Regions from separate parts of the Homo sapiens genome. Here region 2 is linked to region 1. The links come from fine-mapping of genetic effects on gene expression. Tissue or cell type: whole blood. Region 1 holds a variant in brackets; the other region holds the start of a gene. All regions are shown on one strand. Distances are between the middles of the regions.

What was found. PIP is the estimated chance that this variant, and not a neighbour inherited with it, causes the effect.
Region 2: RBM26 starts here. The variant in region 1 is fine-mapped to the expression of RBM26 in whole blood (INTERVAL, PIP above 0.99).

The regions. Positions count from the first base shown.
Region 1 is chr13:79,367,666-79,384,013 of GRCh38, reverse strand. RBM26 (RNA binding motif protein 26) reads left to right here. Exons shown (of 22, transcript NM_001366735.2): 2 at 5,107-5,225; 3 at 6,499-6,635; 4 at 12,084-12,172; 5 at 12,852-13,069; 6 at 15,024-15,284. Among named protein-coding and RNA genes, the nearest start is that of RBM26, 30 kb to the left of the region's middle. The variant T/A (reference allele first, on the strand shown) is at 8,835.
Region 2 is chr13:79,396,911-79,413,258 of GRCh38, reverse strand. RBM26 (RNA binding motif protein 26) reads left to right here and starts at 7,004. Exons shown (of 22, transcript NM_001366735.2): 1 at 7,004-7,555. The coding sequence starts at 7,485. RBM26-AS1 (RBM26 antisense RNA 1) reads right to left here and starts at 6,950. Exons shown (of 7, transcript NR_038991.1): 1 at 6,782-6,950; 2 at 352-577. RefSeq lists enhancers at 6,719-7,018, 6,348-7,339 and a silencer at 7,249-7,448.

The sequences.
Region 1 (16,348 bases):
AGAAGGTCAAGTAGGCCTTAGGCTCTTTCTGATGGGTTCCCTTGGCCTGGGCTTTTTAAAATTTTTTCTTTTCCGGATAGCCATAAAGCATATTTGCATTCCATTTCCATTCCTATCTAAATTCAGATCCCTGTTTAAATGTCCCTTCAACAGAGTCCTTCCTTGATGATCTTAAATAATACTTGTTTTATCTTTTCTGTTTTCTTTCTCCTTACCTTTCTTCCTTTCTCCTCCTTTACACTTTATCTTTTCAACCTGGATTTTTCCTCAGAGCACGTGTCTACATGACAATACATACTATAAACGTATGTTTGTGTAATATGCATATTGGTTCCCCCCACCCCCCAATGTAAATTCCGTGGCAACAGTGATGTTTCTAAAAGTTGTATTTTCAGGATCTAGAACAGTGACAGAGTAGGTGCTTTTAAAATTTTCTTGAATAATGAATGCGATATTTGGACGATAATCACTAAACCCAACATACTTATTTTCTTATTTTATTCATCAAACTTTATATGAAGATGAAAGATTCCCTGACAGAAATGAGCCATTGATCTAGTGAGACATATATTTGTATGTATATTCTCTCTCTTAGTAACTATTAATATGTTTCAGATCTTTTGTAGTGTGTATTTTATCTACAGTGTAATTTTTAAAAAATGCTTTTCTATTACTAATATATGTAGATCAGTAATTGAACAGACTAATGTGTTATTTTATATTTCATATATTTGCACAGTATCTTATGAACAGATTTAAACCTAATGATTTTACTCATTGATACTTGTGTGGGATTTACTATCCAGTCCAGTGCTTATTTGCCAAGAGCTGTTCAGCCTATGCTTGAAACCATTCTAATGAAGGAGAACCCTCAGGCAGTTTATTCTGCCTTTGGGAGGCCTCTGATTATTTTAAAAAAAAAAAGCCTATCTCTATTTTAAGCCAAAACCTGTTTGGCTGCTTCTGCTTACTGGCTTTAGTTACATTCCTTGGAGGATATATTGGACAAATGTAATCCTTTTTCCTTGTGATAACTTTTCAATTATTTGAAGACTTACCAAGTTCTCTCTGACATTTCAGTTCTCTAGGCTGAGAATCCCTAGAAAACCATCTAATAATGATATCCATTTACCATCTTGGTCATTTTCTAAGAATCTGTTTGAGTTTGTTTATGCATTTATAAAGGTGGAACCTAGAACTGAAAGCACTAACACTCTACTGCATAGGAGAGCAGCACTCTTTCCTGTCTAGTTCTCAGTTTTCTGTTTTATTGCATGTTTATAATTTATGTTTCCCCCCCAGCCATTTCACACTTTCATTTCCTTTAACTTAACCGTTTACTAAAGTGCTTAAGTTTTCACCTTCTATTTGCCTTCTACAAATGCTATTGTTGAGTTAGATCTCATGCCTTATTTTGTAGTTTTTGCTTTTGTTTGTATTCTGCTCCCTCACCAGCCCCAACACACACACAGAAGAGTAATTGCAGTTGGAGCACTTGGTGATCATAATCATACTTTATTGGCAGATTTTGTTGTTTGTGGGAGCTAAGAAATACTTTTCAAAACTTGATTCTTTTTTTCCCCGATCTATAAGGCAATTTCAGGTCTGCTTTTTCTTTCACACATTTTCAGGATGCTAGCAGTATATAGCAGGGGTAAAGAAAAGTCTAGCTCTGACAAGATATAGATCATTCAAATTACAAACCTTTTATCAGCAGTGGCAACTGGTAAAGTACCTCGAACAATCTTGCTAGCCATGGAGATAATTTTTAAAAATAATTTGCTATATGAATATAGTTTTTTTAATTAGTTAATTTGAATGTTTATTTAATTGACTTTGCATAACATCATCACTAGAAGTTCAGATAATATAACATTTAAGACAAATAGAAAAGAGAACATAGGTTTTGCCTTTCTGTTCCTGATACATAACATTTCAGTATATTATTAAATTTCTGTGGTCCATATTTTTTACTCAGCTTTTTGTTTTCAAAAATATTGAAGTAAAAATGGAACTTCTTGTAGGACTTAAGAAAAATTGTTTCCCAAATGCAAATTCAGTTGTTTTGCCATTAAATGTGAAATTATAACCCCTGCTTCTATATAATTTGAACTTTTAACAAATGTTAAAAAGTCATCTGCCTTTCAAATTATTTCAAGGATTTAGAACTGTATATGGTAGTATATTTGTTGTGGCTAATCGTTTTTTATTCAGTTCAGATTGCTTCTACAGAAGATGTTGAGCAGAGATTCTTCTTTAATTCTGTCTTGCTGTTTTATCCAACTGTGGTTTATAGACCATAATAATTATAAAAATCATGAAAGCCTTCCTCTAGATTTTTAGCTGCTAACATTTTAATTCAGTTTTAAAATGTCCTATTTAAAAAATAATGGTGCAAAAATGAAATAGATTTGGTATTTCGTTGAGAGAATTGAAAAATGACAGGTAAGTTACTGGAAAAACCACTAATAAGTTAAAAATTCACCACAACAATCAAACCAATATTAAATTACAGCATTTAGACTCAGTGTAGACTGAATTTATATACAGCAGTTGCAATAAAACATAATAATATTATTATGTATCATAATGATTTCCAGTAAATTGAAATATGTTTAGCTTGATGTCTAGTTTGGTTGATGTCTGGTTGATTTGGTTGATAGGGAGTGACTGTAACTCTAGGTGTTTAAAAAGTAAATTGGAAGTCAGGTTTCTGGCACCTCGTTGTAAGAGGCAGTCTAGTGTGGTGGTTAAGAATGTGGACTTTGGAGTATGAGATTTAGTTTTAAATCTTGATTCATTTCCTTGCTGTGTAGTCTTGGGAAGTCTACTTAGCTTTTCTCTGAACCTCAGTTTCTTTATCAGTAAAGTGAGAGCCCAATATAGTATGTAAAATTAGAAGTGCAGTTCATGGCACAAACTAGGTGTTGAGTAAGTGTTAGTAATTGTTGAGTAAGTGTTAGTAATTAACTACTGCTATTATTTTATTGTTAGTTACTCTAACTTGTAAAATCTTAATAATTTTAGCTTAGTTATAAACAATTATATCATTCTTTTGAATTGGATGAAAATAGTTCAGACATCAAAAATTTCCCGTCCTGACATTGTTAATTGAAATAAACCAGGCACAGAAAGATTAATGCTGTATGTTACCACTCATATATGGGAGCTAAATAAGTTGGTCTCATATAAGTAGAAAGTAGAATAGTGGTTACCAAATGCTGGGAAGGGTGGTAGGGAGATAGGGAGAGGTTGGTTAACAGATACAAAATTACGCTGGATTGGATGAGTAAGTTCTAGTGTTGTTTAACACTGTAGGGTAACTACAGTTAATTTATTATATATTTTCAGATAGCTAGAAGAGAAGATTTTGAATGTTCCCAACACAAAGAAATAAATGTTTTAGGTGATAGATAGGCTAATTACCCTGGTTGTTCATTACACATTGCATACAGGTATCAAAATATCACATTGTACTCTATGAATACATACAATTATTATGTGGTTTTTTTTTTTTAAAAACTTTCCCTTCTTACCCTGTCCCTCCTTTACTTAGTTCATACTATCATCCTGTCCAGATAGCCGTAGTTTATTTATCCTTCCACATATATATAAACCAGATTTCTCTCTTCTCCCCCAACACAAATGGCAAATACTATACAAACCTTTTCTTTGTCTTGCATTTTAAATTTAATGAATTGATATGAAGATTTCTTTAGGGGTTGAAAACTTCATTACCTGTCTTTTTATCTTTTTGCTACATGTCATTCTTTTGTGTGGATTTTAATACAGTTTATTTTTCCAGTTCTCTCTAAATGGACATGTGCACATTTTTGATTTTACAATCAATATGACAATGAATAACTTGTACACATGTCATTTTGAACACGTGAGTATATGTGTAGAATAAATTCGTAGATGTAAATTGCATTTGTGACCTTGATACTACCAGAGTATTCTATCAGCTACCAGTTTACTCACACCAGCTCATGTTTAGAATTGCGTTTTCATTAGTCTTGCCACCAGAATACATTTTCATATTTATTGGATTTTGCCAACCTGATAACTGAAAAATATTTCAGTGTAACTTAAATTTGTATTTCTCTTATGGGTGAGGTTGAATTTTTACTCATTTAAGAGTCATTTTTATTTATTTTATGTTTTAGCATCTATTCATATCCTTTGTCTTTTTTTCTCTTATAATGTTAGTCTCGGTAAAAACACTGTGGGTTAGGGGAATTAGCCTTTTTGTGATGAGATAAACTGAGCTTGTTTTTCATTGGTTGACTCTTCATTCTGAGTTTTTTTTTTTGTTCTGTTTTTTATAATCACATTACTTTTTTGATAATATGGATTTTGTGTCTTCCTTACTCCAGGGTTAAATAAATTGTGTTTTCCTCTGACATGTTTCCAAGTTTATTTTGTAAAAGGCAACTGCCAAGTTGTCTCAATACATTTTCTTTTTTTTTTGAGATAGGGTTCTTACTTTGTCACCCAGACTGGAATGCAGTGACGTGATCCCAAATCACTGCAGCTTTGAACTTCTGGGCTCAGATGATTCTTCTCCCTCAGCCTCCCGAGTAGCTGGGACTACAGGCACACACTACCATGCCTAATTTTTTTTTTTTTTTTTTTTTTTTTTGGTAGAGACTGGGTTTCGCCATTTTGCCCAGACTGGTCTTGAACTCCTGGGCTCAAGCGATCTGCCCGCCTAGGTCTCCCAAGGTGCTGTCATTACAGGACTGATTCACTGTGCCTGGCCTCAATACTGTTTATTGCATAATTTATCTCTTCTTAGTTGGTTTGGATGCCACTTTTATAAAATCTGAATTCCTAGTACATTTGGATCCATTTCTAGACTTTCTTTTTTTGCTGTTTAAACTAATATACTGATGGGTATGTTTTTAAGAAATAAAATGGCTACACATAGCATTAAGGAGTGTTAGTATAAAGAGAACTTAAATTTCTTCAAGGTCCTCTGTGACCCGGGTGCTTTTTACATGTATTAACTCACTTAACTATTATTCTCACTAATTCAGTTTGTAACTGGAATTTGTAGAATGTGCAGTTGGCTAAATTTTCTTCAACATTGGTTTTTTTCTTTAGCTGTGATGCAGATCCATCCGCCCTAGCAAAATATGTTCTGGCTTTGGTAAAGAAAGACAAAAGTGAAAAAGAGTTAAAGGCATTATGTATTGATCAGCTGGATGTATTTCTTCAGAAAGGTAAGATCTTTGGTTTAAAAATACTACTATATTTTAAAAAGTTATTTAAGGCTTGGCATGGTGGCTCACGCCTGTAATCCTAGCACTTTGGGAGGCTGAGGTGGGTGGATCACCTGAGGTCAGGAGTTCAAGACCAGCCGGGCAAACATGGTGAAACCCTGTCTCTACATAAAATATAAAAATTAGCCGGGCATGATGGTGGGTGCCTGTAATCCCGGCTACTCGGGAGGCTGAGGCAGGAGAATTGCTTGAACCTGGGAGGCAGAGGTTGCTGTGAGCTGAGATCGCGCTACTGCACTCCAGCCTGGGCGACAAAGTGAGACTCATCTCAAAAAAAATAAATAAAGTTATTTAAAATAAGTTTATCCACAGAATATTAAAGGAACTCGGTAAGAAGCCCTAATTTTAACAAAGTTAAATAAACAATATTATTATTGAGTATATCCATAGCTTATTTAAAATGGATGCCACCTCTCAGTAATGTCCATGTGCTTATTCTTAAAGCATGTTGATATTTTTTCTTACATAGATTAAAAGATTAAGAAAATGACTGCCTATTTATTTAAAGCCAGTACTGCTTAGGAAACTGCTTTGAATCTTACCTAGCGCATTGCTTTTCAGCTTTTTGTACCTTGCCACATCTAGATTATGATAGTGTTTGTGTTTGCAACACTGAGTAGGCGATGTGGAGAAGACTTAGTCATGGCTGGAGGTGACTAGCCCAGAGGGCTGCGACCATTCCAGTCCCTACCGTCTTGAAAATAGCATGAATCAGTATTGCCTCAGGACTTGTGCCATGGCACACTGGTTGGGAAGCTGTTGATATTAGGATATTTTCTTTCTTTTTACTTTTTTTTTTTTGAGACGGAGTCTTGCTCTGTCACCCAGGCGGGAGTGCAATGGCGTGATCTTGAGTGCAGTGGCGCGATCTCGGCTCACTGCAGTCTCTGCCTCCTGGGTTCAAGTGATTCTCCTGCCTCAGCCTCCCTAGTATCTGGAATTACAGGCACCTGCCATCATGCCTGGCTAATTTTTGTGGAGACAGGGCTGGCGAGGCTGGTTTTGAACTCCTGACCTCAGGTGATCCACCTGCCTTGGCCTCCCAAAGTGCTGGGATTACAGACGTAAGCCACCACGCCTGGCCAGTGCTAGTATATTTTCTAGTTTATAAAAGTCAAGGTATGTTTCATCATATTAGAGATAAGAGATGTGGAAGCGGGGAATTAATCTTAACAAATGTGTTTTAATCTATGGTGTTTGGTTTTATTTTTAGAGACACAGATATTTGTGGAAAAACTTTTTGATGCTGTGAATACAAAGAGTTACCTACCTCCTCCAGAGCAGCCATCATCAGGAAGCCTGAAGGTAGAATTTTTTCCACACCAAGAAAAAGATATAAAGAAGGAAGAGGTAACGATTTGTGTTAATACCTTACAGGTTATTTAAACACATAAGAGGAATAACCAAACTGAGTTTTTATCTTCTATATCTTTGTGTTGGAGTCCTCAGGACCACTCCCAGTTTAAATGATTTTTCTAGGAGGACTCATAGGACTCTGCATATAATTGTGCTTATGGCCCTGGCTTATTTCAGCAAAAGGATATAAAGCAAAGTCAGCAAATGGAAAAGGTGTATGAGGCCAAGTCCAGTGGAAAACAAGCACAAGCTTACAAAGTCCTCAGAGTTGCACAGGATGTGCTTAATTCCCCTAGCAGTGAACTGTAACAACACATGGGAATTAGGCAAGCTCCTTAGAAACTCTGCCCTGCGTTCTTATTTGGAACTGGTCACATAGGCACCGCCTACCTAGTATGTACCAAAATTCCAGACTCCTGGGAGGAAGGCAGATGTTCAGTGTAGACCATATTGTTTCATAACTAATTCAGGCATAGTGAACCATTCCTTATCAGGGGGTAATGGGAACCCTCGAGAAATCAAAGTGCCCAGGAGCCAGCCTTACAAGCATGCTGGCTTTCTAAGGTTAGTATTGTCAGGCCTGCTTTTACTCTGCACAATATCTTACAGACATAGAGTCTTAATATCTGTTCTATGAAAATAATTAGGTTGACAATTGGTCTGTTTGCTTTTGTCATACATGTATTTAGTAGGGGACTGTTTTTAAGGTAGTAAAACACAAGGACCTTCACAAGACAGTGGATATGACTTCATACTTCAAGAGGTCCCAAAATTTTTGTGTGTATTTTACAACCTTCTCTCTTCACCCTTAGTTACTAGTCATATAATAATTTATATCTTTTCAATTTGATGTTAAAAGATTATAATTTGGCCAGGGTGAGCGTGGTGGCTCATGCCTGTAATCCCAGCACTCTGGGAGGCTGAGGCAGGAGGCTCACTTGAGCCCAGGAGTTTGAGACCAGTCTGGGTTATATAGTGAGACCTCATCTCTTATGAAAAAAATTTTAAAATTAGCCAGGTGTGATGGGGTGGTGCATGCTTGTAGTCCCAACTACTTGAGGGGCTGAGGTGGGAGAACTGCTTGAGCCCCAGAGCCTGAGGGTGCAGATCAAAGCATTACACTGCAGCCTAGGCAACTGAGCAAGACCCTGTCTGGAAAAAAAAAACAAACAAACTATAATTTTAGTGAAAATAATTGTTGGCAGTCAAGCCATTATGTTTCTGCATTTAGCCCTAGCTTTAGGTCACACATATCTTGGTTAAAATTTTGGTTCTACAAATCACTGGTTTGTGACCTTGAAAACATTACTTTTCTGAGCCTCATTTTACTCAGCTGCGAAATGGAAATATTAAAGGTTCTTGTGAGGAATAAGTAAAATAATGTATATAAAGCACCAATCAAGTGCTTTATATACATTATTTTACTTTTCACATGTGGCACATGGTAGGTTCTCAGTAAATGGTAGCTGCTGTCATTTTTGAGATTGTAAGAGATGTTGATGTTGTGACCTTTTTTTCTCCTTTTATGCTTTTTCCAGATTACATATAAATAATACATTTTATTATGCAATAAAATATATATTATAATATGTAATCTCAAATATATTTATATCTCTATCTGAATATATTTACACACATGTATATTTGTATATTTTCATATACACATACCCACATGTAACATCCCAATCAGTTTTATCTGCCTGGGAAGACCAGAAATGTAATTTATAACTGAACCTATTTCATACCTAACAGTATAAGGGTTCTGTTAGGAAGAAAGGGACGGTGTATATTGTGTTGGCAATTGCTTATGCAACATAGAGATATGCAATGGTTTATTCAAGTTTTGCCTACTGGTGGAACTTTGGTTTGGTTTCAGATTTTTGCTGTGAAAAATTATACTTTGGCTGGGCACTGTGGCTCTCGCCTGTAATTCCAGCACTTTGGGAGGCTGAGGCGGGTGGATCACCTTAGGTCAGGAGTTCAAGACCAGCTTGGCCAATATGGTGAAACCCTGTCGCTACTAAAAACAAAAATTAGCCAGGCATGGTGGCAGGTGCCTGTAATCCCAGTTACTCGAGAAGCTGAGACAGGAGAATCGCTTGAACCTGGGAGGCAGAGGTTGTAGTGAGCTGAGACCATGCCATTGCACTCCAGCCTGTGTGACAAGAGCTAAACTCCGTCTCAAAAAAAAAA[T/A]ATATATATATAATATATATAAATATGAATAATATATATTATTTATTTTTAAAATATAAATATATATTTATATGATATATATAAATATATATTTATATATATCATATAAATATATAAAAATATAAATATATAGTATATAAAAAATGTATAAAATATATATAATATATATATTATATGTATGCTTTAATTCTCAGAAAATCTTGAGTAAATCACAGTCCCTTGGCTTGAGTAGTCTTCCCCTAAATCGAGTTAGTAGCAAAGCCTTAGTCTTATTATCTATTGATGTAATAATACTTCCTGTTTTTTCAACCAATTGTGGGAGATACTTATCCCTGATCTTTCAGAATTGTTGAAATGCCAGATGGCAATCTACGTTTAAAATGCTGTGGCTATACTAAAAGTTTGCAGATGGGCATGTACTGTGGAATATGGTGATCTGTTAGATAACTCGCAAAAGTGCATTGAGGAAATAGAAGGGAAAGAGTGCATCAGAAGGGTCGTATTAGTACCCGGTTTTTTGTCTGGTCTGGGAGGAGAGCTGGAATAGGTGGAAAGAGTACGAAAGTACTTGAATTTAAAAAGGCAAACTGTTGAAAGAATGCTTTAAAGATTATTTCTCCTAGTTTGGTCTGTTAATAGGATTTCCATTTGATTTCTCATCTAAAGTGGCACACTTTTTTTTGTTTGTTTTTTGAGACGGAGTCTTAGTCTATTGCCCAGGCTGGAGTGTCGTGGCCCCATAGTGGCTCACTGCAACCTCTGCCTCCTGGGTTCAAGCAATTCTCCTCTCTCAGCCTCCCAAGTATCCCTCCTGTAATCCCCTTTTGGGATTACAGGCGCGTGCCACCATGCCCAGCTAATTTTTGTATTTTTAGTAGAGATGATATTTCAGCGTGTTGGCCAGGCTGGTCTTAAACTGCTGACCTCAAGTGATCCACCCACCTCTGCCTTTAAAAGTGCTGGGATTATAGGTGTGAGCCACTGTGCCCAGCATAAAGTGGTACATTCTGACAGTCAGAAGCCCTTATCAAAAGGATGCTGGAACAGCTGGCATAAACTGGGACATGTGTACCCTGTGCGTAGACTACCTGCATGAGAATATCTTATGGTTCTCAGTAACACAAAATCTTGAGCCCTATCTTATTTATAGAAGCCACTTGCACGATATTTCCTGAATTTGTTCAACCTCTAAGTCCCTTTTTCTAATTACCTAGAAAAACAGTGATTCCTGTCGTTCCTGTTGTTGAGGACCATTATTCTCAACAATATAGTCTGGAGAAAGTAGCACTGAGAATATTTTCCAAGGTTGCTTTCTAGTAGCTATATAATGTGAATGGAGGCACCTTGTAGGAAACAGAAATATATAGCTGTCATGCTGCTGTGAGAAACTGGAGAACTATTTCACCTTATATATTGTTTTCCCAGATATATATATATAAAATATTATATATTATTATATATAGTAATATATATATATAAAATATTATATATTATTATATATAGTAATATATAATATATAAATATATAAATAGACTATATAAATATATATAGTAATATATAATATATAAATATACTATATAAATATATATAGTAATATATAAATATATTATATAAATATATATAGTAATATATAAATATATTATATAAATATATATAGTAATATATATAAATAAGTATATTTATACATATTATATATATTTGTATATTTATACATATTATATATATTTATATATAATATATAATATATATTTATATTTTATTTATATATAGTATATAATATATATTATATATATTTATATATAATATATATTATATATTTATATATTTTATTTATATATAATATATATTTTATATTTATATATATTTATTTATATTTTTATATATTTATATATAAATATATAAATACATTAGAACTCACCAAGTCATAAATACATACACACATAAACATATACATATTTATATATATTTATATATTTTTATATATTTTATATATTTATATAAAAATTTATATAAATATATAATACATAAAATATATAATATATAAGATATATCTTATATATTATATAAAATATGTAATATATAAGATATATCTTATATATTATATAAAATATGTAATATATAAGATATATCTTATATATTATATAAAATATGTAATATATAAGATATATCTTATATATTATATAAAATATGTAATATATAAGATATATCTTATATATTATATAAAATATGTAATATATAAGATATATCTTATATATTATATAAAATATGTAATATATAAGATATATTTTATATAGCATATAAAATATTATAAATATATTTATATTTATATAATATATAATATATTTATATAAAATATTTATTATAAATATATATCATATAATTATAATATATATCATATAATTATATATAATATAAAATATATAATAAATTACAATATGATACATAAATATATATAATATGTAAATATATATTTATATATATAAACATGTATATGTTTGTGTGTGTGTATGTATTTATGACTTGGTGAGTTCTAATGTATTCTCCTATATTCCTTGATGTGTTTGGTACCACACCAAGTCCACGAAACCAAAACATGAATATATGTTAGACTTTTGAAAGAGGAATAAAATTGGATTTCCATTAATTATGTTAAATGAGCATACTTGCTTAAAATGTTTTCTCACCAATGTAATCATTTCATTATAGTTAAATGATTATACTTAGTAGAGAAATTTACTTTGTTTGGATAATTTTAGAAGATGACAATTTTGCTTCTACGTTATATAAACTAATTTTAATGTTAATTAAATTTTATTTAATGTTAATTAAATGTTAATGTTAATAAAGTCATTAAAGCAGTAATGTGTCTAAGGCTTTTTTTTGTTTGTTTGTTTGTTTTGAGGCAGAGCCTCACTCTGTCGCCCAGGCTGGAGTGTGCACTGGCGCGATCTCAGCTCACTGCAACCTCTGCCTGCCAGGTTCAAGCGATTCTCTTTCCTCAGCCTCCAGAGTAGCTGGGATTACAGGCCCCTGCCACTGTGCCCAGCTAATCTTTGTATTTTTAGTAGAGACAGGGTTTCACCATGTTGGCCAGGCTGGTGTCGAACTTCCGACTTCGTGAACCACCCGCCTCAGCCTCCCAAAGTGCTGGCATTACAGGCATGAACCACTGTGCCCAGCCCTATCTAAGGCTATTTAACAGTGGAATAATTACTAAACTTGTACACTTTTTTTTTTTTTTTTAATCAGATCACTAAGGAGGAAGAGCGAGAGAAGAAGTTTTCTAGAAGGCTAAATCACAGTCCTCCCCAGTCAAGCTCCCGATACAGGGAAAATAGGTGAGCAGTTCATTGAACCATACTCAGTGTTTCGATGTAAGTTATCTTTTATACAAATGTTTAGACTTGGGTTATCTTTTACGCAGAGGCAAGTAATATCTACTCTTTTATTGGTCTAGGAAAATATAACTAGGTCCGTTTCTACCATGAAAATCTAGGTCAGATTTGTAGATCTTGGGAGTGAGTTTAGAACAGTGCTTGACATATATTAGCTGCTTATCTTTTTATTCCTAACTTCAGATTCCAGTAGAATCTTAATGTGTGGGTGTTTTTTTTTTGCCTGCTGTTTCCATTTAGTGTGATTAAATTGTTTTTCTCATTCAGGCTTCAAAAGCACTTAGAATACAATGCATGTGATACATGTCTGTAAGTGAGATTATATGTACGGGATAGTATGTTCTATATGTACTCTAAGTCTTATATACAGATGCCTTTATCTACAGATGCCTAATTGTATAGTTGCCAATGTGTAATAAGACTAAGGGTTAAGGCTTTAAAAAGATTGTTTTTCATTTAAAAGGGATTTAAAGTACTGAATATTAAGCTCAGTTTTTTCAGTTGTCTGATGGTAGGATAGAAAGTTAAGTTACAAGAATTAAATGTAACTTTTGCATTTAATTAGCTTTTTCCTGTGTCACTTAAAAATTATTTGTATTAAAGTGATCACATATTTCTTTAGAAGCCGTGATGAGAGGAAAAAAGATGATCGTTCTCGCAAAAGAGATTATGATCGAAACCCTCCTCGAAGAGATTCATACAGAGACCGGTACAATAGAAGACGAGGGCGGAGTCGCAGTTATAGCAGGAGTCGAAGTCGAAGTTGGAGTAAAGAGAGGCTTCGTGAGAGGGACAGAGATAGAAGCAGGACTAGAAGCAGAAGCAGAACACGAAGCAGGGGTAAATAATATATTTTGGTTATCTTTTTATGAAAAACTCCATGTTTAAATGTTTTTAAAAATTGCTTAACATTTTGTCAGTGTTGTCTTCATTTTTTTCTATTATGATGTATTCTGTGGTCCAAGAGAATGCTTTTTAAAAATTCCTTTAAAAGTTTTATTCCTTGCAAATTAAAATCACAGTTACCACTACACATTCAACAGGATAGCCACGATGATACAGACTGATTCTATTCCATGTTGGTGAGAAAGTAGATAAGCTGAAACTCTTTGGAAAACATTTTGGCAGTATGTAAAAATATTAAAACTACACTTAGCATATGGGTCCGCTATTCTACTTCTTACTGTTTACCTGGAAGAAATGAAAGTGTATGTCCACACAGGTGTTTGTTCACAAAGGTTCATAGCAGACTTATTTGTAAGAGCCAGATCTAGAAACAGCCTAAATGTCCATCAAGAGGTGAATGTATAAACATGTTGTGGTATATCCATACCATAACATGGATAAAAAGAAAAGAACTATTGATACATGCAACAAAATGGATGAATCTCAGTATAATTATGCTGAGTGAAAGAAGCAGGACAATACATATGTATGTTAAAAAATTTTTTTTCTTAATCTTTGTTTTTGTGACAGAGTATTGCTCTGTCGCCCAGGCTGGAGTGCAGTGGTGCTGTTTCAGCTCATTGCAACCTCCGCCTCCTGAGTTCAAGCGATGATCATGCCTCAGCCTCCCAAGTAGCTGGGATTACAGGCAAGTGCCACCATGCTCGGCTAATTTTTGTATTTTTGGTAGAGTCACGTTGGGGGTTTCACCAGGTTGGCCAGACTGGTCTCGAATTCCTGACCTCAGGTGATCCACCCGCCTCAGCCTCCCAAAGTGCTGGGATTATAGGCCTGAGCCACTGTGCCCAGACTAGTTTTTAAAAATGCAAACTAATCTGTGATGACAGAGAGCAAAGCCAGTCGTTGCCTGAAATGGAGTAAAGGAGGGATGATAGATTACAGATTACAAAGGGGCATGAGGATTCTTTTGGAAGTGATGAATATGTACATCATTTATTTGTGGTATTGGTTTCAGAGGTGTTATATCTTGATTAAAACTTATACAGTTTAAATATGTTCAGTTTATTATATATCAGTTATACTTCAAAACTATTTTTAAAAGTTTAAAAAGTTTTATTTCAGATATATATTTTTGCAAGAGCGTGTCATTCCCAACATGTATAATTTTCTTCTAGTACATGTTATTGAAAGTAAGATGTTGTCGTAAAACACCTAAAACACTTTTCAGTAAAGCACCTTTTCTCAAACTTTTTTTGCTACTCTTAATACTATTTATGGCCTTTGTATAAGCCCTGTATTCTGTTACTCTTTTCTTAGAAATTTTCCCCTGCTGTGATCTAGGTATACAAGGCTTCATGGAATGTTACTTCACTTAACTAATCTCTTTAATTTCTTTTCTGTTTCCTGAGGACCATATGTATAGTCTAGTTAATTTCTTTGTGCATGTTTAATATGAACTCTTTCTGGGTCATCCGTTCTTATCTTAATATAACAGCCATTGTAGTAACTTTAAATGGATGACTACAAAATGTTCATCACAGGAAAAATAACCATACTTTATTGCATGTTTTGTTTTGTGGTCTGTAATTATGCATACCAAGATTGTGATGAAGAAAATATAAAATTCCTTTTTTCTATAAACAAAACTCTAAGGAAAAACATTAAATATGGCAGCATTACCTGGTTTTGTAGTTTGGGTTATATTAAAAAGAAATCGCTTACCTTTTAACATTGTATATTAATTGAATATTTTTTAAAAGAAAATGATTATTATGCAAAATTTAAAATTTTTTTTCTATGTTTATAAAAATATCACTATTTCTTAGATCTGGGACTTTTTTTTTTTTAATACAGTGTAGTTTTATATGTCATTTATCTTTCGTTGCAGAAAGGGATCTGGTAAAACCTAAATATGACCTGGATAGAACAGATCCATTAGAAAATAATTATACTCCAGTCTCTTCGGTACCTAGTATTTCATCTGGCCACTACCCTGTACCTACTTTGAGCAGCACTATTACAGTAATTGCTCCTACTCATCATGGAAACAACACTACCGAAAGTTGGTCTGAATTTCATGAAGACCAAGTGGACCATAACTCTTACGTAAGACCACCCATGCCAAAGAAACGGTGTAGAGACTATGATGGTAAGTCTTTCAGCTGTTTGATAAAGTATTTAATTAATATTTCCAGCTGCCTAAATTCTGTGTTTATGTTGTACATAGTTATTCAAAGACTTACCTCTGAAAAGTGGGAAATTAGCCTTAGTCACTTTTTGAATTCCTCAATATGATTGAAACATTTATTAGTTGCCACTAATTTGATTATCAATTTAAAGGTAGTATTTATTTGCAAGTAAGTCTTAATAAATTGTGGGAGTTTACCAAATGAGTAAATATCTACTGAGTTTTTATCAGGGAATCTGCTACTGAAACATTATTGACAAAACTCATTTCTTTAGAATGAGTGATTATTGGACTGTAAATAGAAATGTATCTAGAAATGTAAATGTCACCTTTGTAAGAATTTTATTAAAGAATTAAAGACTTTTGGCTGGGCGCAGCGGCTCACGCCTGTAATCCCAGCACTTTAGGAGGTTGAGGTGGGTGGATCATGAGGTCAGGAGATCTAGACCATCCTGGCTAACATGGTATGCAACCCCGTCTCTACTAAAAATACAACAAATTAGCTGGGCGTGGTGGCTGGCGCCTGTAGTCCCAGCTACTCGGGAGGCTGAGGCAGGAGAAGGCGTGAAACCGGGAGGTGGAGCTTGCAGTAAGCCAAGATCGCACCACTGCACTCTAGCCCGGGTGACAGAGCGAGACTCCGTCTCAAAAAAAATAAAAATAAAAAAATAAAAAGAATTGAAGACTTTTAAGGATTTACCGTAAAAGATTTATAAGTAGTATTAAAGCCATCATTGCAATTTTTTTTAGTTTTAAGAGATTTAAATGAAGGACATTTCTAAAGACAAAAATATGACAAAAATTATATTTAAGTCTCATCTCGTTAGGTTATTTTCATTTGTGTGTTTTTTTTGTTTTTTTAGTATGTATACGTTAGTTTAACATTGCTCTAAAGTAATGCCTGAGCCTGGGAAATTTATAAAGAAAAGAGGTGTCTTTGGCTCATGGTTCTGCAGACTGTACAAAAAGTGTAGTGCCAGCATCTGCATCTGGTGAAGGCCTCAGGAAGTTTACAATCATGGTAG
Region 2 (16,348 bases), 29 kb before region 1:
GTATTATAATAGAGACATGGTTTTGCCATGTTGGCCAGGCTGGTCTCAAACTCCTGACCTCAGGTAATCCACCCGTCAGCCTCCCAAAGTGCTGGGATTACAGGCGTGAGCCACTGCGCTCGGCCTTAAAAAAGCTTTTTATGCCAGAAGTGCTCTGGTTCAATTTAGGGGGATATGATAGTATGGTTTTTTTTTTTTTTTTTTTTGAGATGGAGTCTCGCTCTATTGCCCTGTTGCTCAGGCTGGAGTACAGTGGCGCAATCTCGGTTCACTGCAACCTCTGCGTCCTGGGTTCAAGTGATTCTCCTGCCTCAGCCTCCCTTCCAAGTAGCTGGGATTACAGGAACTCACCATCATGTCCAGCTAATTTTTGTATGTTCAGTAGAGATGGGTTTCACCATGTAAGCCAGGCTGGTCTCGAACTCCTGACCTCAAGTGATCTGCCTTCTTCAGCCTCCCAAAGTGCTGGGATTACAGGTGTGAGCCACTGTGCCTTGCCTGGGATACGATACCATGTATGTCTTCTGATCCCAGTTTACAACATCAGTAATTGCTCAAGCGTTTCCTCTTGAATTACCTAAGGATATCACAAAAGTGTTACTTTTCTTTGCAAGTCATCAGTGTCTTAACACAGATAAGAAAACTATATTCCCTTTATTAACATGACCTTGATCTTCTAGGAAAATAAAAACCCTTGAATTATTATATTAGAGTACGATATGCTTCCTGTTTTTATTTTAAAATTCCCAAATTTAATCAGGTTCTTTCTTAAAAGAAGTATGCGTTGGTGTGTTCATATTTTAAATTTATCCTGTCACACCAAAAACCTTTCAATGGCTTCGCATCATTATTTTAAATAAAATCCAGTTCCAAAATCTTAACATGAAATTTTTTTACCTCTAACTTGACTGACAGCCATTCCCTATGTCCCCAATTTGATACCCTCCCACCACTCTGTCCTTAAGATCCTGACTCTTCTTTACCTCAGGAACATCCTACAAGCTATTATGTATGCTGGAATGTTCTTGTTTCGACTTTTACTCATTATTCACTTTTCTTAACCATTTAAATATCATATCCTTAGAGAAACCATGCTTGAGCCTTTACAGTCTAAATTGCTAAAATGGTTCTTAGTTTCCTCTTTCATAATACTTATAATTTTATTATTAACTACGATTTTTAAAATGTACAAAAATAGAATGAATCAGATGATTAAATTTGTGTTATGGTGTTCTCTGGGAAGTGGATGCTGAGATGGGGTTAAAAGTGCAAAAAGTTTACTGGAAAGTAGCACCTGTGAAATGGAAAGGGGGGAAGCAGAATTGGGTGGGAGAGCCATTAGATTACCATGCAGGTCTGACAATACTTCTGCCATCCCAATATCGAGCAGGTCCTTATCCCTTGCTCAGTCTTGAGCTGCGGATGGGCATGGGGGAGAGGGTTTTCCCTGAGAACAGTGTAACTTCAACTTGAAAGCTGAGGTGAACCTAGAAAGAGTTAACAACTGGAAGCTGTCAGGTAACTATCCTCCTTGCAGTTGGGCAGTGAGTCCTTTCTTGAAGGGAGATCTGAGCTGCACACCTCTGTGACTGCTATACACTGTAGGATGTCAATTCAATCCAAATTAATCCATAACTTCAATGATGAAGAATTTTTTGTTTACAAGTTCAACAATCTTGTTCTATGTATTTGGAAACTAAAGGTTCACATTTATTTATTTATTTATTTATTTATTTATTTATTTAGACGTAGTTTCACTCTGTCGCCAAGGCTGGAGTACAGTGGCTCAATCTCGGCTCACCGACAACTCCACTTCCCAGGTTCAAGCGATTCTCCCACCTCAGCCTCTGGGCTGGGTACTACAGGTGTGTGCCAACACACCTGGCTAATTTTTGTATTTTTAGTAGAGATGGGGTTTCACCATGTTGGCCAGGCCGGTCTTGAACTCCTGACCTCAAGTGATCCGCCTGCCTCGGCCTCCCAAAGTGCTGGGGTTATAGGTGTGAGCCACTGTGCCAGACCAAGATTCATATTTAGCCAAGCTAAATTTGAAAAAGAGCAAAGAAGAGGGATTTGCCTTATTATATATTAAGATATTCTATAATACAATAGTAAATAAAAGCAACATAGTACTGGAGTAGTCACAGACAAGCTGACCAATTGAAAAATAGGTCAGAAGCAGAACACAAATGAAATGAAAACAGAAAGATATAAGTGGCATCAAAAATCAAACAGGAAGGAAGCTAGGCACGGTGGCTCACGCCTGTAATCCCAACACTTTAGGAGGCCGAGGCGGGCCGATCACTTGAGGCCAGGAGTTCAAGAATAGCATGGCCAACATGGTGAAACGCCCTCTCTAATTAGATGGGCATGGTGGTGCACACCTATAGTCCCAGCTACTTGGGAGGCTGAGGTAGAACTGCTTGAACCTGGGAGGCAGAGGTTGCAGTGAGCCAAGATTGCGCCACTGCACTCCAGCATTGGAGATGGTGTCAGACTCTGTCCCAGGAAAAAAAAAAAAAAAAAAAGAAAAAAATCAACAGGAAAGAATAAACTGAGTGAGTAGACTTATAGAAAAAAAAAATGGCCTAGATCCTCACTTTACACCACAAACAGGGATGTATTACAGAGAGAATAAATACTTAAGTGTGATTCTAAGTAGAGTAATGGACTGCAAAAGAAATAGAAGAAAATACAGAATCTCTTTTTGATCCGGAAATGCTGACTGTTTTTAAACAAGACTTCAAAAGCACTATTGAGAGTAGTAAGACTGTATTCAACTAGAGGAGAGAGCTGGAAAAACCTGAGGAGGAGTTCAGCACACTATAGAGAATATTCCTGGGATTGGTGCAGCTAAAAGATGAAGGCAACTTATGGTAATAAACCATAAAGAAATACAGATCTGTTAGAGGGCATATCATTCTCTTGCCTATCTAAAATATTTTCTCCTGCCTCTGCTTCCTTCCTATTTAAAACGAAGCATGTGTCTTCAATAAACATTTTTTGAGTTTCAGACACTGAGTTAAGTGCAGGACGTAGAAAGAGGAATAAACTTGAGTCCAGTCCTTAAAAGAGCTCACAAGGCCGAGAAAGATGAGAAAACTAAATAAAATGTTTTATTTTTATCTGTCCTCACAATCTCTTCCCAGTAAATGTTTTAACTCCTGTTCTACAGGTAGGGAGCTAGACCTTTGTCCAGGGTATCATTGAGGTACTGACATTTGAGCAATAAGGAAAATCATTCTGGCAAAAGGAACAGTGCTAATAAAGTCACATGGCCTTGAAAGAACATGGTGTATTGGAAAACGTTAAGCAGGCAACCTGATACTGGACATTCCAAAATGTACATGTTACTGAATAGAGAAAGTAGTCCACAGCAGCTGTTTAGTCTTCTCTTAGTAGAATTGATGATTACATCAGCTAATTGTCGCCTTTGAAGGCAGGGCCAAAGAAGATGAAGCAGGGATAAATGAAGGATAAATGTTAATGGTTAAGGAAGAGAAGCATTCTAGGAAGCAAAAATGACTAACTGTGAAGTGATAATAAGCACTGTACCATAAATTTAGAGGAGGAAGATACTGCTATCAGCCACAGTGGCCAGGAAAGGTTTCATGGAAGTGGTACGGCTTCCTTTGGTCATTCAAAAAATATAGTTAATCCTTATTACTTACAGATTCTGTATTTGTGAGTTTGCCTACTTGCTAAAATTTATTTGCAATGCCCAAATCAATACTTGGAATGCTTTTGCAGTCATCTGTCGACATGAACAGAGGCAAAAAAATTTGAGTCACCTGATGCACATGTTCCCAGCTTTGGTGAAACAAGGGGATGCTCTGCCTTCCTGTTTTAGCTCTCACACTGGAAACAAGTGTCCTTTTCATGGTCTATTTAAGGCCACATTTGTTGCATTTTTGACCTTTTTGTGATTTCACTGTTTAAAATGCCCCCCAAGTGTAGTGATGAGGCTATCTGGGTCCCTAAGTGCCAGAAGGCTCTTCTTTCTTTTTAAAGAGAAAATACATACGCCAGGTAAGCATGAGTTATAGTGCCACTGGCTGTGAGTTCAATGTTAATGAATCAACTATATTAAATAAGGTGCCTTAAAAATTTTTTTTTTTCCTACATAAGGTGCCTTTAAAAAGAAACACACATAAAACAAGGTATTTATGGGCTGGTTGACAAACATTTAATAAGAGGCTTGAAGGAACCTAATCCTGCATTTCTCCTAGGAGCAATGGTTCCATATTCACTAATTCAGCATTTGTGGCTTTTTTACAGAACCACCGTGAATAAGGATTGGCTGTATATATTAGCAGCTGTTCTTGAAGCGGGGGATTCAAAGCTATAATCCACTAAAGAACAGATAATCACATACTTGCAAAAATAAAGCTATGAGTGCTATAAAAGAAGCAATCACAGGCTGATGTCAGAAAATCTCAGAGGGACTCTCGCTTTACAGAAGGGAGGTCAAAGATGGATTTCCAAAGGCGATGCTGTATGCACTGCATTTTGACGCTTAAGTAGGAATCTATCAAATGAAAGGTAGAGAAACACATTTTGCAATGGCTCAATTTAGTGAGAGGACACACTTCTGTGGAGACAAACGTTTACTCCCTCTTGAATGCTAATTTGTCATGTTGCCTTCTGATTAACCCCAGCCCTGTGATTATTACTTTATTTACTGTCCTTAGTTTAACAACAAAGCAACCCTGATGTTATCACACAAATTACAGGCTATGATGCATATAGCATTCTTGCCTGTCTGGAGGGTTGCCTTTAAATGTCTCTATAGAGTACGTACACCCTTTCCTTATGGCATGTAAGTACTGGTCTGGGGAGTAAAAGGGCAGACATCTACCTGTCTTGCTGCCACTGAAGACCATGCTTCTGTCTGTAAGTTACCCCCAACAAAACACTCTTTACTGACCAAACTGGATTTGTCTGCTTTGTTCATTTGATTTCTCCTTTGATGTTTGGGGGGCACTTTGCATAAAGGGCCTTTTCATGGAACAACTTATTTTAAGGAACTCAAAATAGTTTAGGATGGCTGGAGCAAAGACTGAAAGGAGTTTCTAGGCAAAAAGGAAGGTGTCTGATTTATGAAAGTCCCTTTATAGGATGTTAAATAATGTGTTTTATTCTAAAGATAATGTGGAAGTTGAAGATTTTAAGCAAGAAAGTGACATGATTAGATCAAAATTTTAGAATTACTGCTATTAAAGGCAATGATGATGAGGGCAACTGAAGATGAACTGAGATGGAGGTCAGCATAAAAGGCAAAGATATTAAAAGGCTTTTGCTATTATTTAGGAAGAATAAAAGACTTTAAATAAGACAGTGACAGTGGTATGAGAGATGGATGGGCAAAGTTTGAGCAGTCAGGGAAAGAAGTAGAAGCGTTCTCTGTGGAAAATAAAGTGAACAAATGTTTGGAGAAAGGGAGGGTGAGCAAATCAGTTTATCTGGGGTATACAGTATTTGATAGAAGCTTTGGAAGGCTGAAGTGGAGAGCCAGAGTAATGGAGTAGCTGGTGATAAGGTTGAAAATATTGGTGGCGTCAGCCTGTGGCAAGGCTACAACAAACAGACTAAACAAATATAATTTTAACTTTCGGCAGTATTAAATTTATAAACAATTTTTATTGTAAAATACATATAAAACCTACCGTTTTCATTAAGTATATGGTCCACTGCATTAAGTACATTCATATTGTGCAACCCACACAACACCACTCATCTCCAGAATCTAAATCATCCTAAACTGAAACTCTATTATCCACTGAAATATAACTCCTCATTTCCCCTTCTCCTGGGCACCCTCTCCACCCCTGCTCTTGCTACCATTCCACCTTCTGTCTCTAGGAGTTTTGACTACTCTAGGTACTTAATGTAAGTGGAATCATAATATTTGTCCTTTCATGTCTGGTTTATTTCACTCAGCTAAATCACTTTAATCAACACCCTGGTTATTCAGTAGCTGGATTCTAATTTGTATTCTACTCTATATGCTGTATTTTAAAACAAATGTCTTGCTTTGTAGTTCATAATCTTTCCACCTAATCCTTAAAGACACTTCACTCTAGCAAATTATAAACTCAAGAGTTCCTAAGAACAATTTAGCCTATCGGTGTCTCTCATAAAGAGCTTTTATTGATCTACTTACTGAAAATGTCTTTAGATTGTGAATATTTTCATTCCATTACAGTTCATGGAACGTAGACCCTTTGTAAAATTCCACCTAGTATCTAAATAGAACTCAAGCAGGAATCAAACTTATTTGATCACCCAGGAAAATAGTTTATTTATTTGGGTTGCTAATATGAAGACTCTCTCTTTTGATACTATATAATTTCCCGATCTGAGATAGGGCTGAATTTGCTCTAAATAAAGAGAATTTTAAAAATAACAAAACTTATCTTTAGCTGGGGGAAAGTGCAGGCTGGAAACTACCTGAGAGACGTGAAGGTTCTCTCACCTTTCCCTTGTGGGCAGCCCTCAGTCATTAGGGCTCTACCAGCAAGTCAAGTACTGTTGGACAAGACACTAATCCTCTGGCGGTCTCATTGGGCTCCATTAGACCAGCCTGTGTTTACAAACCTCGTTCACATCACAGCATACACAGAATATGATACTGGTAGGGCACTTAGGTAAACTGAGGAGGTAGTGTGCTCGGCACCTGGAACCTACGGGCCGCCTGGTGTCGCGCACGCGGGAGTGTACGCTCTCAAAGAGCGATCCATCCGGCAGGACCGTTCCAGCTGACAGGCCACGGCCGTCTTACCGGGGACGAGCTGGGGTTCCCGCTGTTTCTGAAGTCAGCGGTCTTTTCCTCCTTGTAAGAAATAAGGTCTTTATATCATAAAGGTAAGCAAAGAATAAAAAGGCACAAAGGCCGCAAGCAACGCACACACGCAAAAATCGAACTACAGCACTCGACCCGCGCATTCTCCGCCGACCTTACGTCTCTCCCAGCAGGCTCCGGGAGCCACCGCGAGACTTCATCAATTCTCGCGAGATTTACCGGCAGCCATCTTCTTGGGGGTGCTGGGAGCCGGGAAGACCCCCTGAATCGTTCCCATTGAGCTGCCCTTCGCCTTCGCTTTCTTTACTTTTGCCTTTTCGACGTAGCCAACAAGCACCTGGTCCCGAGGCTGAGAGAAGGCTCGGGTCTAAGCGCGTGTCGCGCTTCCGGTCTGGGTAGATTTGCTGGGGAAGAGGGAAGGGGGAGGGCCCGGGCAAACCGTTGCTGTTTCAGCCCGGGCTGGGGGCCGGGGACGGGGAGCTCCTGGCACCCCGTGCACTTGTGGCCTGCGGCGGTCCTTGCAGAGCTGTTCGCCGACCGGGGCCCGCGGGAACCTGCCACCGGCGCCTCCCACCGCGGCCCACGCGGGCGGCGCGCGGAGGAGGGGGCGGGGGCAGCGGCGGCTGTAGCGGCCGCGACCTGGGCGGGCGGAGGAGTGTGACGGGCCTTAGGGCCGCTGTGGATGGTTTCTAAAATGATCATTGAAAACTTCGAGGCACTCAAGTCCTGGCTCAGCAAGACTCTCGAGCCCATGTGAGTATCCGGGGGATATCTCTTTGCAGGGATGGCAGTGGGAGATAGGCGGACCCAGAGATCTGTGCAGTTTCCCCAAGTGCCTGCGGTGGAGGCCGAAGCGGTGAACGGAGGTCCCAGGGTTCTGTGGCTTCTCCTCCTCGTCCACCTCGCTTCCAGATTCAGGATACCCCCGAGAGCCTGAGTCGAGCTTTATTTTATTGCTGAGCTGCTCTCGTTTTCCCGTTATATATAGACCGTCTCCAACCCCCACCCGCAATATTTTCCGGGGGCCTCAAAATCGGTTTATTTTAGTGAAACCGACTGTATTTTACTTCCTACAGATTATTTTACCTTGTTTTTCTAAATGAAGTAGACGGCCTTTATTGGGGATTCGGGCAGTTCTAGCTTAAATCACTCACGTTTCACCTAAATATAATTCCTGAAAGCAAGGCCACGTCTCCCATGTGCTGTCTGGCTCATCTGCACCTCTCTTCACTGATTGAAGATGTAACAGGTGCTGAGGTGGCCAGTAAAATTCCCCTTTCCCGCCTACGCGTTCGTTAGCTTGGAGAGGAGGAAGAAAATTGAATCTTCATCCATATGGAATATTTAGCAGTTTTAAGTGGGATGCTATAGATAGATTTTGTGTTGGGGGCTGCGGTTAGAGTGCTGAAATAGTCTTAGATTGGAAAATTTAAGGAGTGTTTTGACGACTTGTTAATACAAAATATGACATGGACCAAAGTGCTTAATCAGAATTGGTTGATTTACAATAATGCAATGGGGAAAATTCACGTATTTAATAAAGTTATTAGGTACCTACTGTATACTACGGGAGGCTTTGGGGATAGAGCTTTTAAATTCTAAAATCGACAAGACATAAATAAATCCAGATATTAATAGAGTTGTGACTATTGTAATAATAGAGAATCATGTAAAAGTGATTATGAGGGGGGCTATTTCACATTGGTCAAGGAAGGACTCTCAGAGAAGGTGACATTGGAGTAACATCTAAAGAGAAGGGACCATGTGTGTCAAAGTCTTGGAAAAGAACATTCCTTGCAAAAGGAAGAGCAAATGAAAGGCCCTGTAGCAGAAGTGATTGTGGTGTGTTTCAGGAAGAGAAAGGCCACTGTGGCTGGAAAGAGCCTTGTGATGAGGGAGAGGATATAAAGGCAACAAGTTGGACAAGTAGGTAGGGGCCACATCATGTATGGGAAGACGTGAGATGATTTAAAGCAGACAAGGACTGATTTAATTTTGTTTTAACTCTGCCTATTTTGTAGAGACTGAAAGGGCAAGAATGGAAGTAAGAAGATTATTCAGAAGTGTGTTGTAGGCAGAGATGTGGCTAGTTTGCATTAGAGTGATGGTGGAGACAGGCAGATCCAAATACATTTCATAAGTAAAATTAATGGATTAAATGCGGGAGATGAGGGAAAGGGAAATCAAGGGTGGTGCCTTAGATAACCCAAGCAACAGAATGGGTGATATTAGAGAAGGCAGAGAACAGGTTAAGGGGAGAAGGAAAGTGGATGGCTAGTTTTGATAATAATAAATACAGTAAGTATGAAGTCTGTGGGATACAGCTAAGTGTGATAGCAGATCATTGAATATATGAGTCTAAAACTCAGGACAGGACTGGAGAAATCTGGAGTCATGCAGATAGTATTTAAGACGATGACATTGTGGGAAATTTCATAGAAAAAGTGTGTAGGTAGGGAAGAGAAGAGGGCCTAGTACTGAGGCAGGAGGAAAACTGGGCTTTATGTCATTAAAAAACAAGTGTATGGCAAAAGAGAGGAGTTTATGAAATGCTGCAGAATGCATGAAAAAATGGAGGCAAATAGGTAGCCCTTAGATTTAGCAAAGTGGAAGTCATTGGTAACCTTAGCAAAATAGTTTCACTGGAGTAGAGTTGTGCAGATGGAAGTCCTATTTCGGTGTATTGGAGAGTGGGCATCATAGTATAGCGGTGAGGAGAACTCTGGAGCAGAATGTCTGGCTTTGAATTCTGCCTCTGCCACTTACCAGCTGTATGATATTGGGTAAGTTACTTAACTCAGGGCTTCCATTTCCTCAACTGTAAAATTGGGAAAATAATGGGTGTATATTAAGGAAATCTTAGACTACTGTCTGGTGTGTAATTAGCATTCAGTAGTTATTAGGTGAATACAAAACTTATAAATGTTTTGGATTGAAATAGCTTTCCTTTAAGCGTTCAGTTTCATATTAGATTTACTGCCGTATCCCTCCATCTTACCTAAATGAGAAGACTGTAGCTACTTAGAGTGTATGCTTGTAATTTTTCTTTAGTCTTAATGAAACATATTCCATGTATCATAAAGCCTACTCTCGATGGCTGTAGCACTGCAGTCATTATGTTGTAATAAATAAGGCTCTGCTAGTAGAGCCTAGACACTGGGAATTGTAATTGGTCCTTTTCTAATGTGTGTAGCTGTGGTAAAATTGAGCCCTTATTCAAGTTCTTGTCCTTTTAATTGCATTTCAGGTGGATTCTTTTGTATGATGACTTATAAAAGCTGATCCCAATTATGGATCAGTGGTTTCTAACGTTGGTTTTGTGAAATGTTATGATCTGTTATCTAAAAGGAATTTTTTTTTTTTTTTGCTTTAACATTGTAATTACCAAACGACCTCTGTTTGAGAGAGGAACATACAGAGGACCAAGGGTAAGCTGTAACTTGAAACTTACATAAAACTTTTTAGTTACCTGTGGTGGTTAAATACTTCATGGTTTTGGACTTACTCCACATTTTGAATGTGTTAATTCAGCAAACATTTATTTTAAGAGTACTTAACCTACTCTGTGCTAAGCAGTGTGCAAGATATAGTAGGTAACAAGACATGAAATGACTCACTTCATTTTATTTACCATTTAGCAGGAAAGATAGGTGTTGAAGTCTGGGAACATCAGGAAACACTTCCCTGGTGTAATGTTTATCTCAGCTTGGAAGGATGAAGAATACTTTGCTGGGGCAAAAGGATGGGATTGGAGACCTGTGAAAGCGTTATAGGTTTGGTGAACAGATTGTATGGAGGTCCTAAAAATGGACAAAAAAGATATGTTGGAGGAATTGAAAGAAATAGAAAAAAGCAAAGGAGAAGAATGGCAGTGGAAAGCTCCAGAGATAGGAGCCAGATCACACAGGACTTTGTTGAGTCATGTTTAAGACTTTGGATGTTATTGAAGGATAGTGGGAAGCCAGTGAAGGGTTTTAGGGCAAGAGGGTTTTCAGATGGATGTTTAAAAAAAAAAAAAAAAGCCTGGCTGTGTTTTCAGCGTGAAATAGAAGTCTGCATATCTGTATTTACTGTTTCATAACTTCTGTACATGTATCAGGGTTCTGAGTTTCATAAATTATTGAAAATAATTTTCAATGTCTTTTTCATAAATTGAGAATTTTGAACTTTATTAAAATTGTCATCTTGAAATGCTTAAGATTGATGTTTTGTTATCTCAAAGATTTGCTTAGTCATACTTGCCAATAATATGAAACTAAATGTTAGTCTTTTTTCTAACATTTCGTTTTGATGATGAGAAGTCCTGAAAAAAAAATTAAGCTCCTTTGTTGTAGTAAACTTTTAAACAAACAAAAAAAACAGAAAACACTTTCTACTGTATTTAAAACTTTTAGGTGGACTTACACATCAAAGTCATGTTTTTTTTTTTTTCCTGAAGAGACACCTAAACATCTAATGAAACTTTAATTTTTTAGAAAATAAAATTGAGGGGCAGGTGGATGTAATGACGTACTGAGGTTTTGTGAGTTGAGTAGTAAAGAACAAAATGCCTAGTGTTGTGCTTCTGCCACTGTGTAGTGCTGTGGAGGAAGTGTGTGGTGGAAGGAAGATCTCTGTGTCCAGATCAGTATTCAAATCTCACTTCTGCCATTTATTAGCTGTCTAGGCAAAGAAACCTCCTCTTTCCTTATTGGTATAATAGGAAGAATTACAGTATTTCCATCTATAGTTGAAAGGGTTGAATGGGACACATGTTTGTGAGCCTTGCCCTTCCCCTCCTTTCTTAGATATTGGTTGATTAAACACAGATAGGCTACATTACTACTGTTGCTACTGTTAGAATTATCACCAACACTCCTGCTGTGACTACCACCTAAACTGTATGCATTGTTGTTAAACATTTTGTATTATTGTACTTACAAGTTTTATGAGGTAAGCATTGTTATCTCTCCATTTTGCAGGTGATGATACTGAGGCACTGAAGCATGAAGTTATTTGCCCACAGTGATTTAAACTAAGGCTTTTTGACTCTAGAGCTGTGTGCATATTCTTAATTTACTACTACAGAATGCAGCATCCTAGTGTTTTCTGTTACTGCATATACTTTTTTACTATGACATTTTGATAGTATTGGCTACTATTGTAAAAGAACAAAGTTCTAAAGCATCGTGATTATCAGTGCTTTAGAGTTTAAGAAATAAACATCTTTGTGGTTTTTGTAGTATTTTTCCCCTTCACCTGTACTTGTTACTACACCTTTCTCACCACATTAAAATTTATTTTTGTTCGTGTCTGATAGGAAGAGTTATTCTTTTGGGTTGGCTAAATGATCTTTTTACTCCTGAACTTTTGAGTATTTTTGATTCCTTTGACCTTTCCTTTTCAGTTGGCTTCTTTTGGCATAGTAAGTCCATTTCCCATTCTTTAGGAAAAACTCAGCAATAATAGCAAAAAACAAAACAAAAGATAAAACGCTTCTAGTCACTTTCTTGCTAGCTTTCTGTTCCTGTCGCTGGTAAATCTTGAAGTAGTAGTCAGACTTTTAATTTTTTGTTAATTTGCCCTCAGCCATTTACTTCTTAATGTCTTGGAATAGAATTTCTTCGTTGTAATATAATTACAACCAAAATTACTTACCTCAGTGTTACCAATCAATTTATATTTATTGCCTGAAGTTTTATATTTTTTGCCCTATGCGTGTATAACATCAGTGTTGATGCCACCTTTTTAACTTACTTGCCTTGAATCCCTAATGTGTTGGTTCCTTTTCTTAAGTCAGTCTTACCCTCTTTTGTTCCTTTTCTTCAGATTCTAATTGTATTTTTCAGTGTTGTTACATTGACATTTTTTTCTTCATCCATTTTTTACTTCTGACATTTCATTAATTACTGCTAAGATTTGAATGTTTGTCTTCTCCAGAATTCATGTTGAAATTTAATTTCGTTAAGTATTAAGAGGTGATTAGGTCACGAGGGCTCTGCCTTTGTTGATTGGATTAATGCCTTTATAAAAGGTTAGGTTTTGCCTCTGCCCCTCTGACTTCTGCTATGGGAGACCTCTGACTTCTGCCATGGGAGGAACTCCGGAGGATGCAGTGTTCAAGGTCTATCTTGGAATCAGAATTGCCAAACCTGCCAGTACCTTGATATGAGACTTCCCAGCCTCCAGAACTGTGAGCCAATAAATTTCTTTATAAATTACCCATCTTGTGGTATTCTGTTATAGCAGCACAAACGGACTAAGACCTTTCCCATGAATGGTTTTCTTTGTAATACATGCCAGTGGTTCTTAAAAACTTTTTTTGGAGTGTATATTGTAGATCCTTTAAAGTCTGATTAAAGACTGTCTCCCTAGGATTTACAAATACATACACATTTGCATTGAATTTCAGAGCTTTTCACTCTGAGCTTGTTAATGGATTCCAAACTAGAACCTCTACTCTGCATTTATTTTCACATAAGTATGTTTAGACTTAACCACTCTTCACAGTCTTAAGCTTTTATCTCTAATTGCTGGCTGTATATCTGCTTGGATCGCTCATCTAAACTTCAAACTAATTTCTGAAAAGAAGTGTTTTCTGGATTCACTTATTTTAATTTCATTTCTCCAAATTATGCTGGCTTGAAATTTTTTGGCTTCTCCTTCCTCCCATTCACTTAGTCATGAGGTTCTCTCTTAATAATCCTTACTGACATTGCTTAGTAGGGGGCTCACACTCCGTATCTAAATGATTGCAGTTTGCTTCCTAACAAATCTGTTTTTATCTCTAGGCCTTTCTCCCTTCCAGTTCTTCTGACATGGATGCCCAGCCTTGTTTGTATCCCATTGCTTGATCAAAACCTTCAGCATTCCCAGATAATAAATTGCATACTTTTTAGCTTGCCTTTAAGAAAGCTAATGATTTGCTTTAAATTATCTTTTCCATTTATATCTTTCTACTTTTTATATGAGTCTTAATTTCAGCAAAGCTGAACTTTCGTGATTCACTGTCATTTTTTTTTATTGTTTCTTTTTTCTGAAACTTTACTGTTTCTTTTTTCTGAAGATTAGTAGTGGGCACCATTTATTGAGTGCTTACTATTAATATATGTTAATTGTTATACATTCATTGTGTGCAAGATAGGTGTTAGGAAGATGAATTAGCATACTTTATTCATAGCTAGTAAGTGATGGAGACAGGATCCAAAAGAAGACATTTTGATTCCAGAGCCTTGTTGTATTATGGTGTACTGTCTTTATATCCTTTCTTTGTGTTGAAGTCAAAGATCAAGTGTGATTCCAGTTCTTCCAGAAAGCTGCCTATGATCTATCCAGCTGGGTGAAGTGACTCCTCCCACCATGACTCCTCTCTCTCAGCACTGGTTTCAGTTGTCATGACACTCATCACTTGTACATTAAATTATTTAGTCGTGTTATTTTAGCTTTATTATTAGAGTCTCAGGCCCTTGAAAGCAGACTCCAGCTCTTAAGATTTAACTATGTTCCTGTTCATTATATACATTATCTAGCACAATGCTTTGTGTGTAGTATATACCTGATTATTAAATGCGTTAGTTGAAATTTCAAGTTTGTGTACCTAAAACCAAGGGAAGAGGCAATAATTTGGGTAAAACTATAGAATCTACCCAACTTCAGAACAGCAGATATGTGAGCTATTTGAAGATTAAGTAGTCTTTGGGTCTACTTCTTTCCATTTTTACTCCTAGCATCTTCAGTTTAGGTAAAGCTTAAGTTCAGATTTTTTTTTTCTTTGAGAGGGAAAGGTCATTGAAGTATATTAATATTTACTTGTTAAAGTATTATTGAATGTTGCTATGTGCAAGATTGCTGTCTCCATAGAGCTGCACATAAAAGAATTATAGTAATTCTAACCTGATGAATTTTATAGCTGGTAGAAGAGTTAATAGTCTATAATTATTGGTTAAAACATTTTTCTTTATTTCTTTATCCCCTTAACTTGTGATAAATTGACTTTCATAATCACATTTTGCTGCTGCAATCTTATTTGGCCTTTCCATCTGAATGCTGAGTGGTTAAAATGCATTTAGCACTTTTTTTCTGTATGTTTTAGCACTTCCTTATCTTTGGCTGACAGTGCTTCTCAAAATTATTTTACATGCTTAAACTGAGAGATAGGGACTGTATTATGAGCAAAATGTAAAATATTCCCATGTTAGTTATGTACATAACCTAAGCTTGAGAATGACTAACTGAAGCTTGAGCTAAATAGCTTGTAAGATTTTTTTCCCTCTTCTTGCTTCCTTTGTGCCAGAGAAAAGAATGAATGAGAGAAATGAATGAATGGTAAGCTGTTCCTACTAGACTTACTCATTACTCTCCTACTACTTTATTTCTGTGGAAAAAGTCTTTTCAATTTACATGCAGTAACTTTGAAATAGGTAAAAGTTTATTTTTAACTTAGGGTTTTATTAGTATCTTTTATGTGTGTATTAAATAATGGAGTAAGTTCAAGATCTGTTACTTAGTGATTCTTCTTGAGATATTTTACCTATGTAGAAGCATTTCTTTTGTTATTTTTTTCTGCGACATGTTTTACAAATGCTTTTAAAATTTTGATTTTCTGATTTTTATTGTTAGTATATAGAAATATATTTGTATATTGACGTTGAATTCTGAAATTTTACCAAGTGTACTTATTCTAGTAGCTATTTTATAGATTCTGTGGAATTTTCTTCTACCAATCTCATCATCTATGAGTAATGACAATTTTCTGATTTTTATACCTTCATTTCTTTTTTTTTTTTTTTTTTTTTTTGAGATGGAGTCTGGTTTGTTGCCCAGGCTGGATTGCAGTGGCGTGATCTCAGCTCACTGCAGCCTCCACCTCCCGGGTTCACGCGATTCTCCTGCCTCAGTCTTCCGAGTAACTGAGACTACAGGCACGTGCCACCACACCCGGCTAACTTTTTTTTTTCATTTTTAGTAGAGACGACAGGGTTTCATCGTGTTAGCCAGGATGGTCTCGATCTCCTGACCTCATGATCCGCCTGCCTCAACCTCCCAATATACCTTCATTTCTTATCATGCTGGCTAGAAGCAATAGTACAATGTTGAAGTAGTAAGAGTGGACGTCCATGTCTTGTTTCCAGTCTAAAGGGAAAGAGATTAAATGTTTCAGTATTACTGATATTGGCTCTAGGTTTTTAGTAACTGCCTTTTACCAGATTGAGAATTTTTTTCTTAATTTGCTTAATATTTTTGTCATAAAAGGTTATTGTTAACTTGGCTAACTTCTTATTTCTTTTTCTTTTTTTTGAGACAGAGTCTTATTCTCTCACCCAGGCTGGAGTGCAGTGGTGCAATCTCGACTCACTGCAACCTCCACCTCCCAGGTTCAAACGATTCTCAGGCCTCAGCCTCCTGAGTAGGTGGGACTACAGGCGTGCGCCACCACCCTTGGCTAATTTTTCGTATTTTTAGTAGAGGTGGGGTTTCACCATGTTGGCCAGGCTGGTCCTGAACTCCTGACCTCAGGTGATCTGCCTGCCTCAGCCTCCCAGTGCTAGGATTACTGGCATGAGCCAT